7 linked regions of the Homo sapiens genome follow. Changing the gene in region 1 together with any one later gene gives a genetic interaction. Each region holds a gene or a part of one and is shown in the gene's direction. Other genes may lie near its edges.

Evidence for each region.
Region 2: changes in CTBP1 (region 1) and EED together harm fitness less than expected from each alone (positive genetic interaction), as found in Homo sapiens cells (one large-scale study listed by BioGRID).
Region 3: changes in CTBP1 (region 1) and RAB1A together harm fitness more than expected from each alone (negative genetic interaction), as found in Homo sapiens cells (one large-scale study listed by BioGRID).
Region 4: changes in CTBP1 (region 1) and FUT8 together harm fitness more than expected from each alone (negative genetic interaction), as found in Homo sapiens cells (one large-scale study listed by BioGRID).
Region 5: changes in CTBP1 (region 1) and SEC23IP together harm fitness more than expected from each alone (negative genetic interaction), as found in Homo sapiens cells (one large-scale study listed by BioGRID).
Region 6: of CTBP1 (region 1) and FBXO11, changing one suppresses a phenotype caused by changing the other (phenotypic suppression), as found in Homo sapiens cells (one study listed by BioGRID).
Region 7: changes in CTBP1 (region 1) and IGF1R together harm fitness less than expected from each alone (positive genetic interaction), as found in Homo sapiens cells (one large-scale study listed by BioGRID).

Annotation. Positions count from the first base shown.
Region 1 is NC_000004.12:1,239,131-1,242,630, reverse strand, and holds part of CTBP1 (C-terminal-binding protein 1), read left to right. Parts: intron 1-1,111; 5' UTR 1,112-1,299; coding exon 1,300-1,306; intron 1,307-3,500. UniProt on the Homo sapiens protein: Corepressor targeting diverse transcription regulators such as GLIS2 or BCL6. Has dehydrogenase activity. Involved in controlling the equilibrium between tubular and stacked structures in the Golgi complex.
Region 2 is NC_000011.10:86,251,253-86,254,752, forward strand, and holds part of EED (polycomb protein EED), read left to right. Parts: intron 1-895; coding exon 896-988; intron 989-3,500. UniProt on the Homo sapiens protein: Polycomb group (PcG) protein. Component of the PRC2/EED-EZH2 complex, which methylates 'Lys-9' and 'Lys-27' of histone H3, leading to transcriptional repression of the affected target gene.
Region 3 is NC_000002.12:65,092,107-65,095,606, reverse strand, and holds part of RAB1A (ras-related protein Rab-1A), read left to right. Parts: intron 1-3,500. UniProt on the Homo sapiens protein: The small GTPases Rab are key regulators of intracellular membrane trafficking, from the formation of transport vesicles to their fusion with membranes.
Region 4 is NC_000014.9:65,737,730-65,741,175, forward strand, and holds part of FUT8 (alpha-(1,6)-fucosyltransferase), read left to right. Parts: intron 1-3,446. UniProt on the Homo sapiens protein: Catalyzes the addition of fucose in alpha 1-6 linkage to the first GlcNAc residue, next to the peptide chains in N-glycans.
Region 5 is NC_000010.11:119,941,230-119,944,729, forward strand, and holds the end of SEC23IP (SEC23-interacting protein), read left to right. Parts: 3' UTR 1-3,428; downstream 3,429-3,500. UniProt on the Homo sapiens protein: Plays a role in the organization of endoplasmic reticulum exit sites. Specifically binds to phosphatidylinositol 3-phosphate (PI(3)P), phosphatidylinositol 4-phosphate (PI(4)P) and phosphatidylinositol 5-phosphate (PI(5)P).
Region 6 is NC_000002.12:47,833,499-47,836,998, reverse strand, and holds part of FBXO11 (F-box only protein 11), read left to right. Parts: intron 1-997; coding exon 998-1,127; intron 1,128-2,127; coding exon 2,128-2,211; intron 2,212-2,287; coding exon 2,288-2,420; intron 2,421-3,500. UniProt on the Homo sapiens protein: Substrate recognition component of a SCF (SKP1-CUL1-F-box protein) E3 ubiquitin-protein ligase complex which mediates the ubiquitination and subsequent proteasomal degradation of target proteins, such as DTL/CDT2, BCL6, SNAI1 and PRDM1/BLIMP1.
Region 7 is NC_000015.10:98,910,539-98,914,038, forward strand, and holds part of IGF1R (insulin-like growth factor 1 receptor isoform 1 precursor), read left to right. Parts: intron 1-776; coding exon 777-903; intron 904-2,505; coding exon 2,506-2,744; intron 2,745-3,500. UniProt on the Homo sapiens protein: Receptor tyrosine kinase which mediates actions of insulin-like growth factor 1 (IGF1). Binds IGF1 with high affinity and IGF2 and insulin (INS) with a lower affinity. The activated IGF1R is involved in cell growth and survival control.

The DNA of each region.
Region 1 (3,500 bases):
GGACCCTGGATGGGAGGTGCGTGCGTGGGGCTGCACCCCAGCCCCTGTGATGGTGTCTCTGGAAGCTGGAGATGGTCGGCATGTATGCTTGAATCCTGCAGAGGGAGTTGAGGGTTGGAGATTTGTCTGCGAGGCCTCTGCGCAGGGGCGGCCTCACAGCACACTACCAGGGTCTTAGGCTTGGCTGAGTGGCCCCTTCTGGCCTGGCAGGCAGTCGTCTCAGCCCACGCCTGCCATGCTGCTGGGCTGGTGGTGGCCGGCTCCTGTCCTGGTCAGCCTGATGTCAGCTGCACGTTGGGGTCAGCCTCGGTGCTGTGTCTTCATGCCAGAGCAGGGGCCAGGTGTGGGCAGCTCAGTGACACCCTCCCGAGGGCTGGGCGATCGTGTGCACTCTCAAGCCTCTACTGGAAGGCTTGGCCCTCTCAGGGGCCCCCTGCCCCTGTGCATTCAGCCACTGGGGTTCGTGCCCTCAGCTTCCCGCCAGGCCCTGGCCGTAGCGGTCAGGAAGAGCTGAGCAGTTTTTTTGGGAGAATTGAGGGAGCGTCGCCAGGATGCACTGAGGGTCGGAGGTGGAGCCGGCGCGGCTCAGTGCAGGCAGTGCCAGGCTGGATGCTGGAAAGCCAGCAGCACCTCTCCCGGTGGCTCCTGGGAAGTTCCACGTCCTTGCCTGGTCACAGAGGCCCGGGAATCAGTGACATGAGATAGAAGCTTCCAGAACAGGAGGCAGAGCCTTTCCGCAGTTTCCCTGCCCACAGCACACACCCTGTGCCCTCCGTCCCCTGGTTCTTGGACACTGGGGACATCTGGATGCGGCTAGAGCCTGTGGGGGTGGCCGCAGCCCTGGGGGACTGTTCCCAGGAGTAGGCCTCGGGGCCACAGGGGCGCGGCCTCGGGCCTGGCACTGCAACCTCAGGGTGAGCGCCCTTCGTGTGTGCGGCAGGAGCCGGGGCCCCTGGCTGTCAGCAGGCCCCCGAGTCCAGGTAGGTCCCAGACAGCAGTCCCGGGTGTGGCAGATGCAGTGAGGTCCACTTCTGAGGCGTTCCCTGGAGTCTGTGAGTTCTGGTCGGACCTTCGATGGCATTTTAATGTGTCTCTTGTGTTTGATTTTTAGTAAGACTTTGACCCCGACGCAGGCTTCAGTGATTGCCGCGGATCAGAAGCCTGAGCACTTTGGCTCGAGACAATTAAGGACGTGGGATGAGGCTCCGAGACAGGACGCGGTTCTGCCTGGGGATCCTGAAGATAAAAAGCTTTGAAAAGTCGAATTCATGGTCGTGGAAGCTGAGCCCATATTAAGAGATGTCAGGTTGGTAGGGGTTCCTGGCGTCGGCGGCAGAGTGAAGCCGGCCGGTCTCTTTGCGACCGTGTGGAGGAGGCACTGCCTCGGATCAAGTCGAGGGACCTGGGCTGCATGGGCGTCGGGCCGGACTGCTGCCACCTGACCCCCGGTGTGCTCTGGGCGAGGTCAGGTGCCCCTCGAGGGAGGGCTTCCTGCACACCTGGTGGCAGAGCACAGCTGTGGTCAGGCCTGTCCGTGGCATCTGCTGTCTGTTTCTGTCGGAAAGTGTCTGAGAGGCACGGAGGGCCTCCATGTGGAGGCCGCCAGCACGAGGGTGGAGCCCCACACGGAACCCTGGAAATCTCAGGTGTCCACCCGGCTGGCCCAGGAGCAGGGCCGTGGCCCCTGTGGAGCTGTTCCTTGTGGTTGGTCTGCGCTCTCTGGCCCGGAAGTGCGTGCAGTCGGAAACAGCCTTGGGCTTGGGGGATGCTGCAAAGCCTGCTTCAGCACAGGCCGTGTGACTGTGAAGCCTCCTGGGTGTGTCCCCAAGCCTGCAAGGGTGGGCTGTCCGGGGAACCCTGGCACGGTGGTCAGGGGCAGCTCATGGGTGATGTGAGGAGGCACCTTGGGTGCCTGAGCCTGATGGGGCTTGGTGTCTCCACCTGCTCCCCCCTCCCCACCGTTCAGCTGAGGGACCCGGTTCCCACTCACCCAGCACCCGGGAGTCCCCCACGCGGTTCCGACGAGGGACCCGGTTCCCACTCACCCAGCACCCGGGAGTCCCCCACGCGGTTCCGACGAGGGACCCGGTTCCCACTCACCCAGCACCCGGGAGTCCCCCACGCGGTTCCGACGAGGGACCCGGTTCCCACTCACCCAGCACCCGGGAGTCCCCCACGCGGTTCCGACGAGGGACCCGGTTCCCACTCACCCAGCACCCGGGAGTCCCCCACGCGGTTCCGACGAGGGACCCGGTTCCCACTCACCCAGCACCCGGGAGTCCCCCACGCGGTTCCGACGAGGGACCCGGTTCCCACTCACCCAGCACCCGGGAGTCCCCCCAGGCGGTTCCGACGAGGGACCCGGTCCCACTCACCCAGCACCCGGGAGTGCCCCACACGGTTCCGACGAGGGACCCGGTTCCCACTCACCCAGCACCCGGGAGTCCCCCACGCGGTTCTGACGAGGGACCCGGTTCCCACTCACCCAGCACCCAGGAGTCCCCCCAGGCGGTTCTGACGCAGCCGAGCGGTCTGCAGTGATCCCGTGTGTCCATGCCTTCCTCATCAGAAGTGAAATCCAAGGATACTGAGAGCGGATGTCTATCCACTCACTCAGAAACAGCAACATAAACCTTTCTGCTCATGAGAAGTCATCACCACCACACACAGCGGGGAGGGAGGCCACGTGCAGAGGGAGGCCATGTACAGTGTCACTGGGCGGCCTGTCTATGGTGCTCGTGGGCAGCTCCCGTCCAGAGGGAATGAAGGAACAGGCGAACCAGGACGCGGTTTTGACCGTGCAGACCTCACGTTTGGGATCTGGTTTCCTATCTTGAAGGAAAGTGGGTGGAATGGCCAGTGGCTCCTCCGAGGACGCCAGGGCGCGAGGACCTCACGGGAGGGGCATGGGCCCAGCCGTACTGGGAGCCCTCGGCTTTGGGGTGGTCAGTGGAGACCCATGCCCCGTCCCCTGCAGGCGTGTGCTGCAGGCCCACTGCACCCCTGGGCTGTCCACCAGAGCATTTCTTTTCTCTGCCATGGGTTCCAGGAGGCACTTCCCTGCTTCCTGGATACTGGCAGCTCGGTGGCCTCTGCTCACCTGCAGGCGGATGGGGCAGCGGATGGGGCGGGAGACTGGGCCGAGCGTGCTTGTGGCCGCGGCCACTGGAGAGCCTGCTGGGTCACTCTGCTCCTTGGTTCTGTCGTGCGCCTCCCCTCCTGCTGGCCGAACGGTCCTGGGTACTGCTTGGTCTCCTGTGGCCGGTCTTTGGAGGAGGAGGGGAGGGACCGGCTGGGCCCTGGCCCCAGCTCCGCCTCTGCCCAGCTGCCGTGGGGCTGACAGTGGCCCCACCTGGTGCTCCCTGCCTGGCACGGGGCGGTCGGGCGGTGCCTGGAAGCTGCCATGCTTCTGTGACGCCTCAGAGCCCTTATTTCTCCAGTTGGCCCCGATGAGGCTTAGTTGCGTCATACGCGAAAGGAATGGGTGTTAATGAGCTTTA
Region 2 (3,500 bases), on another chromosome or scaffold:
TTTGCTCCTGTAAAAGGAGAGAAATTAATCTCAGCATATTTTTTAAAAGTCAATTATAGTTTCATGTGCATATTTATTTACATTAACGTACTACTTTTAGGTACTGTACCTGGAAGATGTTTTTAGCTGCCTTTTATACTTAAGGCAGTATTTCAAAATCCTAAAGCTGTGGCTTTTCAAATGATGAGAAAACGAAAGACGTACTTTAAAAGTGAAAACAGTGCCTTAAACTGCATCTGAAAGTCAGTGTTAAATGCCAGAAGTTGGCCAGTAAAATCCTAAAGCTGAAAAATAACTTTGTGAACAAAAGTGCATAATTGTTCTTTGTACATCTCCTATAGCCTCCTGGTAACTGTGCAGTTACAGTTTATTTCTTCCCCTAGTCCCCAGTGTTCAGATATTCTCATTCTGACTAACAGAAAACAGTGATTTGAATGGAGTCTGCTATGCTTCACTTTACAAGGGAAAAATTTAGCCTTATAAAATTTAGTGAATGCCAGAGAAGCTATTAAGGCCATCTGTTAATTTCCTGTTTCAGAAAAATAAATTGTGTCCTTTTGTATCCACCAAAATTATCCAGTTTATTGTGATTCAGAATATGATTGGCTTATTAAGAAAAAGGCAAATATTATAAGTGTTTTCGTAGGTAAGCGGTTATTACCTAACTTGTGATTTCAGCCTTTGGTTGTGATAAAACTTTATCATACACAATATTTTAAAATGTGAAAACTAGACTAGTAGACATCTTTTAATTTTAGTGTCAAAAGTTAGCTTATGTATGATACACAAAATAATGTATTGCATTTTGGAAAAAAGAAGGGGATAGGTTAGTTTACTGTCATTTTCTGGTTTGTAAGATACATTAATCTTTTCTTATTTCATGATTATTTTATAGGAAGATCATAACCAACCATTGTTTGGAGTTCAGTTTAACTGGCACAGTAAAGAAGGAGATCCATTAGTGTTTGCAACTGTAGGAAGCAACAGAGTGAGTGTTAAGGGGTCTATTTAGTATTTGGCTTGATTTCCAGATCTGGTGTTAATGTAATATTGAAATAGAATAATTTCAAAGTGCATTTTGTGAAGCTGGTTTAGCAATATGATTCTTTCATGTAAGAGTGAAGGTTTCTAGAAATTAATTAAAACTAGTATGCATGGCTGAAAATACATCTATATTTAATATATTACCCCTAATTATTTATGAAACAGGTTTTATACTTGTATTTGTCTTCATAAATACTTGGTTGAAAGAATTGGCGTCCTTTTTTTTTTTTTTTAATTGGCGTTCTTTTTAAAGTGATTTTGGTATTTATCATTCAAATAGCGTAAGAACTGGCTGTGATTTTTTTAAAATTAAGGTAATGAATGGCTCTATAAATGAAGCATAAATCCAGTGGATTTAAATAAGTTATTGAGATGTTTTAATTACTTGCAGTAAACATTTGAGTTTGCTGGGTTTTTTTGTTTTGAGACAGGTAGTGTTTGGTGGTGATTGTTGTTGTTGTTGTTGTTGTTTGTTTTTGAGAGAGAGAGAGTCTTACTCCTTCCTCCAGGATGGAGTGCAGTGGTTAATCAAGGCTTACTGCAGCCTCAACTTCTGGGGCTCAGGTGATCCTCCCATGTCAGCCTTCTGAGTAGCTACAGGCATGCACTACCATCCCTGGCTAATTTTTTTTGTAGGGATAGGTTTTCACCGTGTTGCCCATGCTGGTCTTGAACTCTTGGGCTCAAGCAATCTACCTGCCTTGGCCTCCCAAAGAGCTGGGGTTGCAGTCATGAGCCACCATGTCCAGCCTTTTAAGGAAATTTTATAATGACATGTAAGGCTCTAGGCCTTTTACTATTTGACAAGGTCAATTCATTGAAACTCTAAATATTTTTAAGTTACCACTGAAGTTGATAACATGAAATAATAGCTTTTTTTCTTCTGTTTTTGGTGTTTAGTCAAATGTAGGTTTTAAGATAATGTAGTCTGCTTATAGTTGTTTAGTTCCTAGATTCTTTGAAAACAACAATTCAGAGGAAAAATTTTGCGGTTTTAAGAAAAGGTTGAGGTTATTTTTTTCCTAGTTGGGAATGTAGTGCATTAATTAAATTTGAGTCCACTTTTAAGACACCACTGTAAACCTAAGTTAATATTTAGCTTTGATAGTATTATAATTGGTATAGTTTGTGCTCCAGTGTGCTGATTGCAGTGTTTTAGGTTTTCTAACAAAAAGAATCCCTATTTTTATTTAAAGTGACATAAAGGGGTGTCATATAGTTTATTGAATTATAAAAAGTTCTGCTGTTAGAATTTCTTTAAAAGGAAGAAAGAAAACAAAAACAATTACCACATAAGACATAACCTAGTTAGCAGCCATATAAAGAATTTTTTTTGAACATTAACATAGAGGAGATAATGAATTAATAGGTTGTGATGATACACAGGATCTTCAGAGGTCTTCAGTACTATTATAAAATAATAATAGGTTTTTGCTAATGTGACTGACTATAAGCTATAAGAAAAATGGGGCCGGGCACAGTGGCTCACGCCTGTAATCCCAGCATTTTGGGAGGCTGAGGCAGGTGGATCACCTGAACTCAGGAGTTCGAGACCAGCCTGACCAACGTGGTGAAACCCTGTCTCTACTAAAAACACAAAAATTAGCTGGGCATGATAGCGAGTGCCTGTAATCTCAGCTACACGGGAGGCTGAGGCAGGAGGATCACTGGAATCCGGGAGGCAGAGGTTGCAGTGAGCCAAGATCATGCCATTGCACTCCAGTCTGGACGACAAGAGTGAAACTCTGTCTCAAAAAAAAAAAAAAAAAAAAAAAAAAAGAAAATGGAAAGAAATTTATAAAAGTTTAGTATTACAAAATTGTGTATGGTGTATGTATAGTTTTAATTTTAGAGTATGCAACAAATGAAAAAGGCTATCATACATGTGAAAGTTAATGTTTGATTATCTGTACCCATGAGAAAATAATTCATTAAGCAAATTGTAGACTTTTAAATATGTAACTAATATGTAAATACTCCAAAACTATCCAAAGACTTATTTTTATTTGAATTTTTATTTTTTATGGTTTTTTTTTTTTTTTGAGACTGAGTCTCTCTCTGTTGCCCAGGCTGGAGTGCAGTGGTGCAATCTTGGCTCACTGCAACTTCTGCCTCCTGGGTTCTAGCGATTCTCCTGTCTCAGCCTCCTGAGTAGCTGGGACTACAGGCACATGCCACCACACCCACCTAATTTTTGTATTTTTAGTAGAGACGGGGTTCCACCGTGTTAGCCAGGATGGTCTTGATCTCCTGACCTCGTGATCCACCCGCCTCGGCCTCCCAAAGTGCTGGGATTAAAGACATGAGCCACTGTGTCCGGACTTATTTTATTTTATTTTTTTTTGAGACAGAGTTTCGCTTTTGTTGCCAGGCTGGAGTGCAATGGTGCAATCTCGGCTCACTGCAACCTCCGCCTCCCGGGTTCAAGTGATTCACCAGCCTCAGCCTCCTGAGTA
Region 3 (3,500 bases), on another chromosome or scaffold:
GAGTCACTTGAGGCCAGGAGTCAACATAGCTCCTGTGACCAGCCTGGTCAACATAGAGACTCTATCTCTACCAAAAAAAAAAAAAAAAAAGTAACCAGGTGTGGTGGTCCATGCCTGTAGTCCTAGCTCCCCAGGAGACTGAGGTGGGAGGAATGTTTGAGCCCAGGACTTCAAGGCTGCAGTGAGGCAAGATTGCACCATTGCACCCCAGCTTTGGGGACAGAGTGAGAGACCCTGTCTCAAAAACAAAATAAGGCTGGGCGCAGTGGCTGTCCGGGCGTCGTGGTTCACGCTTATAGTCCTAGCACTTTGGGAGGCCAAGGTGGGCAGATTGCCTGAGCTCAGGAGGTCTAAGACCAGCCTGAGCAACATGGCGAAACCTCATCTTTGCAAAACATACAGAAAAAAACAAAAAAAACCACAAAACCTCTAGTTGCCAGTTATTTTTTTTATTTATTCCTAGTGATTCTTCTTTTTTTCTTTTTTCTGAGACAAAAATTTCACTTTGTCTCCCTCGCTAGAGTGCAGCGGTCAGCTCACTACATGATTCTTTTAGAGACATGTTAATTCTTTATATTGAGCTGAAGCCTGTTTCTTTTACTTCTGTCTCTTCTTATTCCTCCGCCTTGTAGAGCTGCCTGAATCAGATTAATTCCTCTTTTATTGGCAAGCCTGCCCTTCAGATTGATCTTATCACAACCTTTCTTCTACCTCTGAAGTCCTCATTCTTTCCTGTAATGATATTTTCAGAACCTTGTGCAATTTGGGTTATTCTTACATTTTATAAATGCCTTTTATTAAATTTGATTTCTTAAATCAAGTATGAGATATAACACATGAGGTAAATCCTGTCTTGATTTGGAGCCTGAATGAATTTCTCTCTTGAACTTCAAGGGCTCATGGCCCTTTCTTATTATTAATCAAAGACAACCATTTGTTGTTTCAGTAGCTATATTATTTCTAGTTTGGGTCTTAAGGTTTTTGATTTGCTTGTTTTTTCTTTTTTCTTTTTTTTTTTTTTTGAGACGGAGTTTCGCTCTTGTTGCCCAGACTGGAGTGCAATGGCGTGATCTCGGCTCACTGCAACCTCCGCCTCCCAGGTTCAAGCGATTCTTCTGCCTCAGCCTCCCTAGTAGCAGGGATTACAGGCATGTGCCACCACGCCGGGCTAATTTTGTATTTTTAGTAGAGATGGGGTTTCTCCATGTTGGTCACGCTGGTCTCGAACTCCCGACCTCAGGTGATCCGCCTGCCTTGGCCTCCCAAAGTGCTGGGATTACAGTCGTGAGCCACGGCGCCTGGCCGATTTGCTTGTTTTTAATTAAAATAGGGGCCTTGGCCAGGTGCAGTTGTTCACCCCTGTAATCCCAGTACTTTGGGAGGCTGAGGCAGGCAGATCTCTTGAGTTCAGGAGTTCAAGACCAGTATGGGCAACATGGTGAAACCCTGTCTCTACCAAAAACACAAAATTCAGCCAGGCATGGTGGTGTGTCCCTGTAGTTCAAGGTACTCAGGAGGCTGAGGTGGGAGGATTGCTTGAGCCCGGAGATGGAGGTTGCGGTGAGCCAAGATTGTGCCATTTGCACTCTAGCCTGGGCAACAGAGCGAGACCTTGTTTCAAAAAAAAAAAAGAAGAGGGTCTCACTTTACACTTCTGTGACTGGTGTTTTAAAAATCTAAACACAGGCCGGGCACGGTGGCTCACGCCTGTAATCCCAGCACTTTGGGAGGCAGAGGCACGCAGATCACAAGGTCAGGAGTTCGTGACCAGCCTGGCCAGCATGGTGAAGCCCATCTCTACTAAAAATACAAAAAAATTAGCTGGGCATGGTGGCAGGTGCCTGTAATCCCAGCTACTTGGGAGGCTGAGACAGGGGAATCACTTGAACCCAGGAGGCGGAGATTGCAGTGAGCCAAGATTGCGCCATTGCACTCCAGCCTGGTGACAGAGCGAGACTCCGTCTGAAAAAAAAAAAAAAAAATCTAAACACAAGATTTTACTTTTAATCCTATCATTTCCTCTTGCTTGGCTTCAGTAATCCTTCAAGTTTTCTAGGTCTTTTCAAAATCTTGATTCTGTTGATTTATATTTTAATTATCTTTTCCTTTCAGCTTTTCCTGTTCAGGTGTGACATCTGGGTCTTTATCTGAGTTTTATTAGATTATAAAACATTCAGCAAGATAGGGCAGGTACTGAGTCCAGTTGTACACCATGGAAGGCCTCTTTCTGTGATTGTTCATTCATGAGGCTTTATGAAAATGTCTACATTACACCAGGCACTTGGAGGTTACAGAGATGAATAAAACATAGTCCATTAGGAGGCAGACAATGGGAGAGACAAACATGGGAAAAAGTTACTCTGATTATGAGGAGTAATGAGAATTACATATGAAGGAAAGTATTGTTAGTACTGTTAGGATTTAGTGTCAGGAAAGTTTTCAGAGTAGCAAGGAAACATCAGAAATTTTACTCTTTCTGCCAGGCATGGTGCATGTATTATTCTGTTCTCACACTGCCACAAGGAACTGACCAAAACTGGGTGATTTATTAAAAAAAAGGTTTAATTGACTCATAGTTCTGCATGGCTGAGGAGGCCTCAGGAAACTTACTGTGGCAGAAAGGGAAGCAGGCACGTCTTACATGGCAGGAGGCGAGAGAGTGTGAAGGAAGTGAAGGGGGAAGAGCCCCTTATGAGACCATCAGATCTTGTGAGAATTCATTCACTATCACTTGAATGGGGGAAACCGTCGTCATAATCCAATCACTTCTCCATAATCCAATCACTTCCCTCAGTGATTACAACTTGAGATGAGATTTGGGTGGGGACACAGAGCCAAACCATATCAGTGCCTGTAGTCCCAGTTACTTGGAGGCTGAGGCAGGAGGAACACTTGAGCCCAGGAGTTCAAGATCTGCCTGGGCAACATAGCAATACCTCCATTTTGGATAAAAAGGAAATTTTACTTTTTGGGTGCCATTGCTTACTTTAATCAGCTGTAACTTCTTGTTGACTTTTAGTCAAAAAACAATTTTTCCTTCTATCTTTGTGAAAGAGGTTGGTGAGCAAGGAAGAAAAGGAAACTTGCTTTATTGAGCAGCTTCTATAGTCAGGCACATTTTACAAACATTAGTTCATTTAAACCCCTTTAGCTGTTGTACAAGGTGAATGCTATCTAGCATTTACAGATGAAGAAACTGTTAGGTGACTCTCCCTAATATTAAATAACCAGGAACCTGGATTTGATGTTTTGAAGTCAGGGTAGCTTGATCCTCGAGTTCATGCTTCCTCCAAGGATACACTGAAAGACTTTGAGCCTCTTTTTTTTTTTTTCTCTTTTTTTGAGACAGGATCTGGCTCTCTTGCCCAGAGTGCAGTGGTGTGATCTCAGCTCACTGCAACCTCTGCCTCCTGGGCTCAAGCGATTCTGCCTCAGCCTCTCGAGTAGCTGGGACCACAGGCGCACGCCAGCATACTTGGCTAATTTTTGGATTTTTAGTA
Region 4 (3,446 bases), on another chromosome or scaffold:
TCTGTAGTTTCAGCCATTAAAAGTTATCATAATACAAAATCCTTTTTTTCCCCCTATGACACCTCCCTTTATGGCAGTTATTACAATACTCTCATGAGCCTCTCTTGGTCTAATTCCAAATCCGCACGCAATTCTACTCCCCTTATTACACTTTGAATCAGATTTTGGAAGCCCAGAGGGCAAAACCAAAAACTACGTTAACTATTCCAGACAGATGGCTCTGGACAGGAATTTCCATTGAGATGTGGCTCATGAAACAACAGTGGATACCTGTTGAGAGTACCATGGAGGAAAGCACAGGGTGAAATCCCAAGGTGTGAACTCTGTGATTACTTCCCAGAGCAGAAGACAAGAAAAGTATTTGCATCCACAGAGGCTCTATCTAGCTTACAATGCTGAGTGCTGTACAGTGCAGCTGTTACTGCATTAATCCTTCTGGTGTTTCTCACAACAAAGAAAAGACCTGGGTCTTATTCTCTTATTGTATAGTAAAACAAAGCAGATTACAGGAAAAGTGCACAGATCTCTCAGCCACTTCCAACTTCTCACACTAGGATATCCTCCTGCCCCTATCTATCTATTTTGACAAAAATAAGATCCCATCTACTCTGAGAAAGCTTTGGAGGCTTATGTAAACTCAGGCTACTTCTAAGGGATGAAATTCAGACTAATGGATTCCTCCCCCTTTTTAAAATTTTTTTTAATACAGTCATATCTGTTTTATCCTTTGGCAGGATTTTTGCTGTTACCCATTACTGTGTGCTTTACGATGTACTAAAAATGATACAGTGCCATGTCAACACAGAATAAAGTTAAACATACTACATGTAGCCAACCACTGCTTTGCAAACCATGGACTGCTCTCAGTCATGCCACCTGTCAAGCATCAAACCTGAGTATGGACGTCAGCTGCAAGCCTTCATTTACCTGCCATGTGATTTGAACTTTTAAACCACGTGGTAGGTAAGGAAAGAAGAGAGGAAGCATAGAGTGACTAAATGCGAACATTAACACTATAGTAATCTTTTTAGCCTTTTGCAGTAAATTGTCCCATGGTTGATATAGACAGTTTTAAAATTACTTCCTCTTAATGTTATATATGGATCTTAAGGGTTAAATATCACCCATGGACTTGTGTCTCCATTACTGGGCTGGTATTATGCCTGGAGCAATATTCATTCAACAGATACTTATTGAGCACGTACTTTGTGGCAGGCATTGTTCTAGGTGTTTATCCTAAGGGAATATATACTCAAGAGCCTGAAAGAGTTCTGACTGTGGCTCTGCCATTAACTAGTTCCTTTTTGGATTTTTATTTTTATTTTTTGAAATTTACTTAATCTTTCTGTGGCTTAGCTTCTTCATCTGTAAAATATGAATAATAATAGTACCTCACAGGTTTGTCATAATAGTTAAATGAGTTGAGACAAGGTGAGGGAAGAGCACACTATTATAACACTGCCTGGGACATAATCGGTGCTCATTAAGTTCAGCTGCTATCTTTAATGGTCATTCTTATGAGAAAAATAAAGGGCCACACCTGTGTAGCACTGGTATGCTTGCAGAGGCCTACAGTCACATTTGTCATTTTTATAATGGGCCACCTCAGTGTCTGAAATCTCTACTATTATTATAATAGTTATTTCTTTGGTTTAAGAAAACAGTTCTGTTATCCACCAAGGTTAACACATGAACAACTCTTGATAGCAAAACATACACTAATTATTAGGATTATCCCCAGAAGAAACAGGTCTCTAAGGGTGTGGGACAGGGTGCGATGTTGTTTTTATGAGAGTAAGACGTTTAAGAGTGGAGAGGAGGAAACACATCACGGTTCATTGTCACAGTAGAGATTGTGGTCATCCTAAGAGTAACACAAGGTCCTGCATTCCTGGCTAGGGATGACTGAAGAGTGGGTGAAGACACCCTGAAAAGAAGACTGTCAGGTTTACCCAAGACTGTCTTTGGTCTTATGCTATATCTTTCTGGTGTTACAATATGAACATGGAGAATAAGATTTACAAGAGAAAATATATATAGCAGTTTCAAGCATATGCAGACTGCCTGGGTTCCAACCTGAATTTACCACTTATTAGTATAACCTTGAGCAATGCCTTAACTTCCCTTTGACATTTGTAAAACAAACATAATGATAGAATTTTATGGGGATGCTGAAAGGAATCTAATTACATTAGATAATGTCTAAAAACAATGTCTGACAGTTAGCAAAAGCTCAGTAAATATTAGCCTCTGTCATTGTTATTGTAGTTTGCTATTATTGGAGCTGCTTTAATTATTTAGTTTCTTCTTTTCCTGAGTCCCACTTAATTTTGCTTGCCTTCTATGAGCCTTTGGCTGAATTTGAAATTCAAAAGTTCCAAATCTTTTTGATCCCTATTTTATTATAGTCTCGGTATTCTACCAATGATCTCAATTGTAAAATGACATTGCCAATATAATCGTTGTTGAACTAATAAATCTGAAAGCAAGGTTTCTATTATTTTGGTTCTATATCTAGTTGAAATTCTATCACTAAAATTTGCATAAATCACTTAATCTCCTTGTGTTTTAGTTGCCTATCTGCAAAATTAAAAATATTGGGGCAAATGTAGTTTCATTTGCAAATTATATATAGCATTTGAGAATTGCCCCTCAAGTTTTCTGAAATTCAGATTCTCTAAGTTGAGGTGATGATTAACCTAGTCAGATTTTATTTGATAAGAGTTAAGAATAGGCATCTCCATTTGTATTAGTCTGTTTTCGCATTGCTAAAAAGAAATACCTGAGACTGGGCAATTTATAAAGAAAAGAGGTTTAACTGGCTCATGGTTCTGCAGGCTATACAGGAAGCATGATGCTGGGGAGGTCTCAGGCAACTTACAATCATGGCAGAAGGCAAACGGGGAGCCAGCACTTCACATGACTGGAGCAGGAGGAAGAGAATTGGGAGGTGCCACATATTTTTAAACAATCAGATCTCACGAGAACTCACTACTGTGACCACAGCATCAAGGGGTGATGGTTTTAACCATGAGAAACCGCCCCCATGATCCAATCACCTCCCACCAGGCCCCATCTCCAACATTGGGGATTACAGTTCACCATGAGATTTGGGCAGGTAACACAAATCTAAACCATATCACCATTCAAGTTTTTAATCTTCATAAATGCCAAGGTTTTAAAAGACTGCCGGGTAGTCCTAAATTGCTCCACTGAGCAGATAAGCAATTACTATGAGTAGCGTCATTTTAAATACATGCAAAACTATTGGTATAGTGACAATAAAGCATTAACTAAGATTACCATAACTGGAGATTTAGGAAAATTTCATCTGAGTTGCATTGTTCTCTTTTCACAATGTATAAATTGCTTAAATTGGGTGATAGTTTAGTTTAACTTTATTACTAAGCATTAACCTCAAGGATTGAAGCTCAGATTGTGGAATT
Region 5 (3,500 bases), on another chromosome or scaffold:
CTGGGAAGCGCTCTCCTAGCACGTCCATTTCCAGGAGGAGAAGCAAGCAGATGAGAGGTTTTCCATTTTGTCATCCAAGGTAGCTGTGCACTTGCCTTGTTGCTGAAGTTCCAATAATGTGAAAACCAAAGTAGAGGTTTTTTTCTTCTTCTTTTTGTTTTCTATTAATTTCACTTATACCAAAGTGTTTGAAAGTATGAAATGTGTTGCTTCTGAGTTATATAAGGCTACTTCATGACAAGACTGCTTTGTAATATTTCACTTTGTTTTACTACAAATTCAGATCACTTTGTTTTACTATAAATTCAGATTATCCAAATATTTTCCTAATACTATGTGGGAATGCTGATTTTCTTTTGTTACGTAGTGGAAACATTTTGCATTGTTTACATAGTTCTCATGGAACATGGAAATTTTTGAAAGTGATATATGATACACATTTTTTGTGTATGTATTCTAATTAGTGTGAATAAAGCAGTAACATTAATGCATTTTTTAAGCAGCAAACTTATGTATTTCTCTTGTCTTCCTTAAAAGTGTCCCCATGAACTCAGTGTTTATTCCCTTTTCATTTTGAGTACCTGCTTATATGGTCAGTATGTAACGTTAGCATTGGCTCCTAATGGTAGAATTAGAACAGCAAGATTGTAGAGCTGTAATTGACTCCAGACAACATAGATTTCAGCCACCTCATTCTACAGCTGAGGCCAGGACAATAAATGCCTTTCCCAGACTGGGTAGTGGCAGATCTGGGATGGAATATGGTTTTCTTGATTCCCTTTCAGCCTTCATTTCTCTCTCTCAGGACTACTACTTTTTAATTACTTTTCACTTAATTTCCCAATACTGATGAAATAAAGAAAAATGAGGGTTATTTATATACATTTCAATAAAATCCAATTTGATTTTTCAACTTACATCTGATTTTTGTTTGTGTCATTCAGCCTGTCTTCTGAGTAATGGGCAGAGAAGGACCAGGGTTCGTAGAAGAAGCATGTGGCAGCTGAGTGGCAGCAGTCTTGCCCTTTCATTTTAATACTTGAGTACACAGAAAATAGAATTTTTGAGTGACTCTGCCTGTGGATATATATACTCATACATACATATATATATATACACACACACATATGTATGTATGTATGTATTACTATTCAGTCTCTTAAAAACCAAAAAACAGTAGATCCCCTGAGGGTAGAGTCTTTATGTATGAACATATTGTTCACTGTTGTAACCACCTTGCAGGATTTCAGTCTATAAACTAGGTGAGAATCCAGCTGCTGAGTGAAGCTTGATCTCTGCCTCTTCCTCAGGAGCAGCTCATCCCCTGACAACCTCCCCTCCCAGCCCCTAATCTGGTTTAATGCCCTCCTTTTCCCCAGATAAAGAAAGTCATGTCTGTAGTTATTCCAAAAGTGTTTCATGTGTAGAGTTTGGCACAAAAAGTAAAAAGCGCCAGCATCTGAAGTCAAAGGTGAAAGAGTCATCACAGTACTGATGAAGACACCCAGGCCTCGTCAGCTATGTTAACGTGCTGTATGACAAGAGGAACCTGCTTTCTAAGTCTGCTGGACACGCGTGCTTCTTGAATCCAACCAGACAAGCATGTTTTCTCAAAACCACAGTATAAGACAAGGAAACTGCACAGATTCGAGTGATTTTTGAGGTAAGTATGTTATTGGAAAGGTGTGATCTATATAGAACCCTGTACATGAAAAGGAGGAGATGCCGCTATCTTGGCAGGGATGATCATGTATTTGAAATAGTAACTCACAGCATTTGGTCTCATGATAAGAGTACTGAAGATTATCCCAGAAAACCTAGGATGATTGGTATTTATAGTACCATTGTTTCAGGTTTTTATGACTTGAGGCATCTAACTATCTTAATGCTGTACTTTAGTGTTTACCAAGCAGCTTTCTGGTGGAAACTTGAACTGCAGACACTGAGTGTTTTGGTTTTCCTCCAAGTTATAGTTCTCATTGTAACTTAATAAGTTGGCATTCCAGCTTAGTTTGAGTCAGTTTCCCAGGGCTGGGTCCTCAGAGGAGAGTGGATAGAATTCAGTTCCTCTATGAGCTGGGGTGCTGACATTGTGTTCCTGCTGTTGACTGTCCCTGCGGTGCACGGGACAGACTGTCAGCTAACCTGTCTTCATGACATTTCTATAATACTCCTCAGGGGGTTAACCCCATCTCTACTAAAAATAAAAAAAATTAGCTGGGCATGGTGGCATGTGCCTGTAGTCCCAGCTACAGGAGGCTGAGGCAGGAGAATTGCTTGAACCCAGGAGGTGGAGGTTGCAGTGAGTTGGGATCTCGCCACTGCACTCTAGCCTGAGTGACAGAGCGAGACTCTGTCTCAAAAAAAAATAAATGAATAAAAAATAAAACAGCAACTCTTGCAGATTTCCCGAATGTATTGGTCCCAGAGAACACTGAAAATAATGTCATGTTGTTAACACCAGTGGGAGTTTGGGAAATAATTCCAGCTCTTTAATACTTCTTTCAGCTTCAGATTAAGTGAAATGAGTTTCACATATTTCAATATATGAAATTTTATGATGACACATAAAACAGGCCAGGGGTTATTGAGGACACATCTGTGAGATAGTGGGCAATGCTACATATTCGTTAGTGGATGTGCTGCAGTTCAGGTTCATGGACAGGTGGGACTGGTGTGGTTGGGATAACCCACCATGTTTGTCTTTCATTTCTTGTATAAAGAGTGGTTTTTAAAAGACCTTACTATGGAATTTTCACAAATACTCAAAAGTATGGAGAATGGTACAGTGAATCCCCATGTGCCCTTTTCCCAGCTTCAGGGGTGGTGTCAGTGATAATGATTTGGCTCTGTGTCCCCACCCAAATCTCATCTTGAATTGTAATCCCCACGTGTCAGGGGAGGGACCTGGTGGGAGGTGATTGGATCATGGGGGCTGTTTCCCCATGCTGTTCTTGTGATAGTGAGGGAGTTCTCACAAGATCTGATGGTTTTAAAAGTGGCAGTTTTCCCTGCACTCTCTCCTGCCACCTTGTGAAGAAGGTGCCTGCTTCCCCTTTGCCTTTCGTCACAATTGTAAGTTCCCCGAGGTTCGTCATGATTGTAAGTTTCCTGAGGTCTCCCCAACCATGCAGAACTGTGAGTCACTTGAACCCCTTTTGTTTATAAATTGCCCAGTCTCAGGTAGTACCTTGATAGCAGTGTGAAAATGGACTAATACAGTCAGGGACCTAAAAGACAGGTAAAGAGATGTGGCCAGGTGAAGACGGAAAAAGGACAGTGCATTCCAGACCTGTGGAAAGACGCGAGGTTGGAAAGAACATCACAACTGGGGCGACTGAAGAAATTATGTTGTTAAGCACGAAATGCAGAGAGAGAGCTATGTGAATGTGTTGAGTGTGATTTTCATTAAACAATTTTTAAAGAAAGCATTTCTAGTGGTGCTTTTATTTTTGCAGCCGCTTAATAGCATTCACTCTTGTTGAAAGGAGCACAGTTTG
Region 6 (3,500 bases), on another chromosome or scaffold:
TGGGAGGCTGAAGTGGGCAGATTACTTGAGCCCAGGAGTTTGAGACCAGCCTGGGCAACATACTGGGACCTCATTTCTACAAAAAAAAATCAAAAAATAAGACAAGAGGATCACTTGAACCTGGGAGGTTAAGGCTGCAATGAGCCATGATCACGCCTCTGCACTCCAGTGTGGGCAACGGGAGTGAGACTCTGTCTCAAAAAGAAAAAGAAAGAAAATTATCTTTTTAAGTGATAATCATGATGTTTTTACAGTAAGGATAACTTTTTTTCCCCTTCCTGAGTAAACAGTTTGTAAGGAAATTGAAACTTTTTGTTGTTCTGTGTGGACAAATTTTCATACGCAGTTACATTGTGAAAATTTTTGCAGGAAAACTAATTTTCGGCCAGGCATGGTGGCTCACGCCTGTAATCCCAGCACTTAGGGAGGCTGAGGTGGGTAAATCACTTGAGCTCCAGAGTTCGAGACCAGCCTGGGTAACATGTGCCTGTAGTTCCAGCTACTTGGGAGGCTGAGGTGGGAGGATCATTTGAGCCCAGGAGGCAGAGGTTGCAGTGAACTGAGATCGTGGCACTGCACTCCAGCCTGGGTGATAGAAATAGACTATGTCTCAAAGAAAAAAAAGGAAAAAAACATAATTTCCATATGCAACTACACTGAAAATTTTAAATGTGAAAAATACGTTTTCACGTTTTAAATCCTGTTTTTAGCTGTGCGTGGTGACACATGCCCATAATCTCAGCTACTCAGGAGGCTGAGGCTTGAACCTGGGAGAGGGAGGTTGCAGTGAGCCAAGATCATGCCACTTGCATTCTAGCCTGGATGACAGTGAGACTGTGTCTCAAAAAAAAAATCCTGTGATTTAATATTCATTTTTGTCTATTCTTACTTTCTTACTCAAGTTTTTGAGGCCTCAAATAATTGTTATAGTTGTTCAAAACTGTATTAATCTAAAGGACATTTTATCAAGAAAATTTTAATTCCTTTCTCTGTTCAGGAAACGATTATATATGGAAGTATTTGAATATACTCGCCCTATGATGCATCCTGAACCTGGAAAATTCTACCAGATTAATCCAGAAGAGTATGAACATCCAAATCCCTGGAAAGAGAGTTTCCAGCAGTTGGTATGAAATATAAATAGAATATATTGGTTTATATTATACATTTGTAAATAACTTTCTTTTAAGAAATAAGTTTAGGCTGGGCGTGGTGGCTCACACCTGTAATCCCAGCACCTTGGGAGGCCGAGGTAGGAGGATTACCTGAGGTCAGGAGTTCGAGACCAGCTTGGCCAACATGGCGAAACTCCATCTCTTCTAAAAATACAAAAATTAGCCGGACATGGTGGCGCACACCTGTAGTCCCAGCTACTTCGGAGGCTAAGGCAGGAGAATCACTTGAACCCAGGAGGCAGAGTTGCAGAGAGCTGACATTGCACTGCTGCACTCCAGCCTGGGCGACAGAGTGAGACTCTTGTCTCAGGGAAAAAAAAAAAGTTGAGTAGGTTTTAATGAACATTTATCAACCAACAGAATATTCAGCAATTCTTTTCACTACTGACATATCCCCCCATTAATAAGTTAGTACAGTAAGCATTAGTAGCCTAAGAGCAGTTGTGATTTCAATGGGTCTGTTTGAACTTGTATTTAAATTATTAGTGTTCAGCATTTGTTTTAAAGTTCCACATTTAGCTTAATTGTTATACGGCCCTTCGTGAGTGAGTCTCAGCTGGAGATGATTTTGCTTTCTGTGGGACATTTGGCGATGTCGGGAGACATTTTTTGATTGTCACAATGGGAGGAGAGTGTGCTGCTGCTATTTGGCTGGGTGAGGCCAGGGATACCTCTAAACATCCTACAGTGCACAGGACAGCCCCCATAACAAAGAATTAACTGACTTAAAATATCAGTAATGCTGAGATTGAGAAACCCTGTTCTTTGTTTCTGGATATTACCGGATCATAACTTGTTTTAGATTTTACATTGTACTCTGACAGAAAATTATTTGGAATAGTTGAGAATTATTTTTGATTTGTAATAAAAGTTGTTCATGCAATTGTACATTAATTTAAATATAAGGTTTATGTTAGTAGTCAATGGTTTTGTTTTGTTTTTGACATTTTAGTATAAAGGTGCACATGTAAAGCCAGGATTTGCTGAACATTTCTACAGTAACCCTGCAAGATATAAAGGAAGAGAAAATATGTTGGTATGTTTGATTTTTATTTTTATGACTTAAAATGGTAATCTTTCAGTTCTGTACTGACACATTTATTTTTTTCTAGTATTATGATACTATTGAAGATGCCCTTGGTGGGGTACAAGAGGCTCATTTTGATGGACTTATCTTTGTTCATTCTGGAATATATACTGATGAATGGATATATATTGAATCTCCAATCACCATGATTGGTGCAGGTATTTTGAAATGCATTGTCATTAAAATTTTAATATTTTACTCATTTATGTGATAGGATTTTAAAAATGCTAGTGACTTAAAATCCAGTTTTATAATATCCTGCTGGTAAAGTAGGAATGAAGATATCACACATATTTTAAGTGAAGGAAGTGAAAACATAAGAGTTCAGAAATTATAGCTGTATATAAATTCTTTCTCCCCGCCCCCCCCAACCTTTTTTGTTTTTTTGATGCAGAGTCTAGCTATGTCACTCAGGCTAGAGTGCAGTGGCACAATTTCAGTTCACTGTAACCTCTGCCTCCTGGGTTCAAGCAATTCTCATGCCTCAACCTCTCAAGTAGCTGGGATTATAGGCATGCACCACCATGCGTGGCTAATTTTTGTATTTTTAGCAGAGATAGGGTTTCGCCATGTTGGCCAGGCTGGTCTCAAACTCCTGGCCTCAAGTGATTTGCCCATCTCGGCCTTCCAAAGTGCGGGGATTACAGACATGAGCCACTGTGCCTGGCTGTATATGTTTCCTAATGTTAGTACTTTCTCCATTTGCCTTGAGTTATTCATTAAACGAAGAAAAATAGCTTTTTCATCTTTTATTTGAAAATAAAGATGCAGCCAGGTGTGGTGGCTCACACCTGTAAACCCAGTAGTTTGGGAGGCTGAGGTGGGTGGATCGCTTCAGGTCAGGAGTTAAAGACTGGCCTGGCCAACATGGTGAAACCCCATCTTTACTAAAAATACAAAAAAAATTAGCCAGGTGTGGTGGTGTGCACCTGTAATCCCAGCGACTCTGGAGGCTGAGGCAGGAGAATTGCAAAGAAAGATGCTAATATTTCTATTGCTATGTTTTTAAAGGAACTGAAATAGAATTTTTAAATACTTTTGTACTATTTCAAAGCTATTTATGGTCAGGTTTCTAAGAATAAATGTAATATCTGTCAAACACTGAGTCATTTGAAGATTTGTGGTTTTTTTATTTTGAGGATACAGTACATAGAACATTTTAAGATAGCTAGTAATTATTATTTGCTAGTGAAATTTGCATTTACAGCCTCTTTTGCTTTCTTCCTCTATCTCCTCAT
Region 7 (3,500 bases), on another chromosome or scaffold:
CGTCAGAGAGCTCTGGGTCTCCATGAGGGTGGGCAGTCATCAGTCTTTCCCTGGTCCTTATCGTAGTTTGAATTTGGTCCAAGGAATAAGAGAGACACTTGGCACAGCTTCCCTGCCATACCCGCCAGCCAGGCTACTTCCCATAGAGCACGTTAGGCTTGGCCAAGTGAGATCTTCTTGTCAGTGCTTAATCCAGCCTCCCGTTGTTTGTCAGCCCTAGCTGGAGGCCTCACAGGAGTTCCTGTGTCCTTCCAGTTTGATACCAAGTTTAGACCAAGAAAAGTTCCTTTCTGTGGCACACCTGTAGTCTCTTACCTGTCTTTGGTGGTTGTACACGAACAGGCAGATATCCACAACTGCAGAACAAGTGTCATCGTCTCTCTTAAGAAGTTTCAGGGCAGCCTAAAGGCTCACCTTCACCCTACCAGGCCCCCTTTCATAGCCAGGATCTTAGGGATGGAGAAGAAAGATAAGTTCACCTCGTTCACTGAAGTCGCCCCTTGTTTTCAGGTTAGGAAACCCAGGTTCATGTCCAAGTCCCTGGGCAAGTAGCCAGCGTAACTGATTGACCTAAAACAAAGGATGGAGCCCTTGGAGCTCTGCATAGTGAAATGTATGATTTCTTAGTGGAAAACGAGAAAGCCACTGAGGAAGCCCAGAAGGGAACTTAGCATATACAGCCAGCTTTGGGGAAGGGGGAAGCAGTGCCAAGCAAGACAGGTGCTTTTCAGAGACACATGAATCTCTGTCACTCACGGATGTACTCTTTGCCCCAGGTGAAAGTGACGTCCTGCATTTCACCTCCACCACCACGTCGAAGAATCGCATCATCATAACCTGGCACCGGTACCGGCCCCCTGACTACAGGGATCTCATCAGCTTCACCGTTTACTACAAGGAAGCGTGAGTTTCTGCTTTGGGTGATGCCATTCTGTTGACAGGGCTACGAATGGGAGAGGCCAGTCTTTCGATCCTTGAATGGGCTGGCTGAATACAGGGGGTCAGCAGAGTCCCCAGGGAGAGCCACGCCAAACATCCCTACTTCATCCTCATGCACCCTCTCGGGCTGTCCCTGTGATGTCAGTCACAGCCAGTGACAGCCATGATTGGGAAAGTGTTAGCTCGAGGCCTGTCATTCTTTAGTGAGTGATTAGAGGTGTTTGAATAAAATAAACCCAAAATGGGGAAAGCTTGCTTTTTCCAGAATTAGGTCAGTCCAGACTCATGAACGATGATGGGGGACTTCACTGAAATATCGTTTCAGCCTCCTTACCTACTAGGCCTACTCCAGGAACACCCTGCAGGCACGTGGCTCTTTTGTATCATCTTATTCCTGTCTCTCTCTCTGTGTGCCTCTCCCAAGCTGTGGCCCTCTGCTCTAGGTCATGAGCCTTCCAAACAAGCGAAGAAAAGTGGAGAGAGAACAACCTTCATGTCTTGAGCCTTTTGTGACTTCTCCTAGACTCTGTTGGGAGCTTTTCCTGTGTGATCACATGACATTCCCCCATCTAAGCAGCCGAGGCTTATTCCTCCCGACTGCAGCCCTCTTTGATCTCCCTCTTCCTTCCTTTGCCTTCTATATCCAGGTGGCTACCCCGGTCTACTTAGCCATCCCCCTTACCCAGGTCCCATGTTAATCCCATAGTTCTCTCTCCCAGATGTGTGGCTTCCAAAGAGCAGCAACCAGAGGCACCTTATGACAGCATCTTGTACTCTTTCCTCCTGCCAGAGCTGGGGTCCTATGAATGAGAAATTGGGTACTTAGGATTACTAGGCTTTCAGAGTTTGTACACAGGGGAGCCCCTCATGATCTCCCATCCCATGACAGCAGACGGTGTTTTGTTCATGTTTGTTTCAGAAGCCAGCGGCCAGCAGCTGTCCAGCCCTTTTAGCTGATAAATATAAAATACCTACCCAACCATGCATCTGTGCGAAGTACTATATTCTCTGATAGTCACACCAGTGCTTTGGCAATGTCAGCTGGTAATTTCACTGAGGACTTGATGCTGGTTTCTAAGGCAATCTGGAAACTAAATATTTGAATATTATAAGATGCTTAAGCATCAGAATTGTTTATGAGCAATCTGAATTTTAGAAGCTACTTCTGTTTGTCTGTAGGAAAGTCATTTTTCTCCAACAGTTACCTTCTTTCAATATCTGATATTTGCATTAACTGACTATGCTTGTTTTTTTCTTGATGAAAAAATGCTGCAATCAGAAGAGAGAAAAATAGTTTTTGCATATGTTCTTAAGGAATAGTAACTATTGAATCCCAGTAACTGTTGAAGTGGCTCTTCCTGAGGCAGACCATTCAATTCTGTAATGCCCGACTGGGGAAGCCCAGAGTCCAGTCACTTCATTTCTTCTTCTATAAAAGTCTAATTGATTATTTGTTTATTTAGACCTCCCATTATAGAAAGTGTGACATGCTGGGCCTCTGGGGAAGATTTTTGAGGGTTTTGATGTCAGAGCCCCGAACTTTCTCTGAACTTAATTGTCTTTCAGACCCTTTAAGAATGTCACAGAGTATGATGGGCAGGATGCCTGCGGCTCCAACAGCTGGAACATGGTGGACGTGGACCTCCCGCCCAACAAGGACGTGGAGCCCGGCATCTTACTACATGGGCTGAAGCCCTGGACTCAGTACGCCGTTTACGTCAAGGCTGTGACCCTCACCATGGTGGAGAACGACCATATCCGTGGGGCCAAGAGTGAGATCTTGTACATTCGCACCAATGCTTCAGGTATCCATGCCTAGACAAGCCCCCAGCATCCACACTTCTTCGCAAGCTCACTGGCCTTGCTTGTACCAGGTGTCATTGTAGGGTTAGCAGTGAGCTATGCCTGTTGTCTTTCTTGTCAATAGGTAATACTGTGTCATATTCATTTCCCCACTGCTAACACATTAGGCTCTTCTGTGCCATTTTCTGGCCTCGGTACTATCTTCCATCATCTCCTGCTTTGTGCCTGTGAGCCCAGGTCCTCCAGGGTGCTGGGCTGGTTTCATTGGAAGGCCCAGCCTGGAAACAGCCGTCTTCAGCTGCCCTTGTTTCTTGTTTGTTTTGATGTTCAATCCTCCAGGAACTGAAACCATGCTGATCTGTGTTCCACTTAATTCATGTAGCTCACTGGTTTTCCATCTTCATTCTGGAGCTTATAGAGTTCCAAAGAGGTCAACAAAAGTTGAAAGCCTGCAGATGTAGTATGTTGTGGATATTCAGAGTATTCACTGATGATGAGGTTCCTCCTTCCTTTATCTTTAGGTTCTAAACCATCTCATTTCTCAACTCCAGATCTGGAAACAGTAAAAGCAAACGTTAATAGTTTCCAGTATATAAAAACTAGTTTAGAAGTAGGAAAATCCACTTCAGTTTTAAAGACACTGATTGTTTTAGTGTATTGGAGCTTCTATCACAAAAAAACAGTGTAGCCTGGGTGGCTTATAAGCAATAGAAATGTATTTCTCACAGTTCCAGAAGCCACAAAGTGCAAGATCAAGG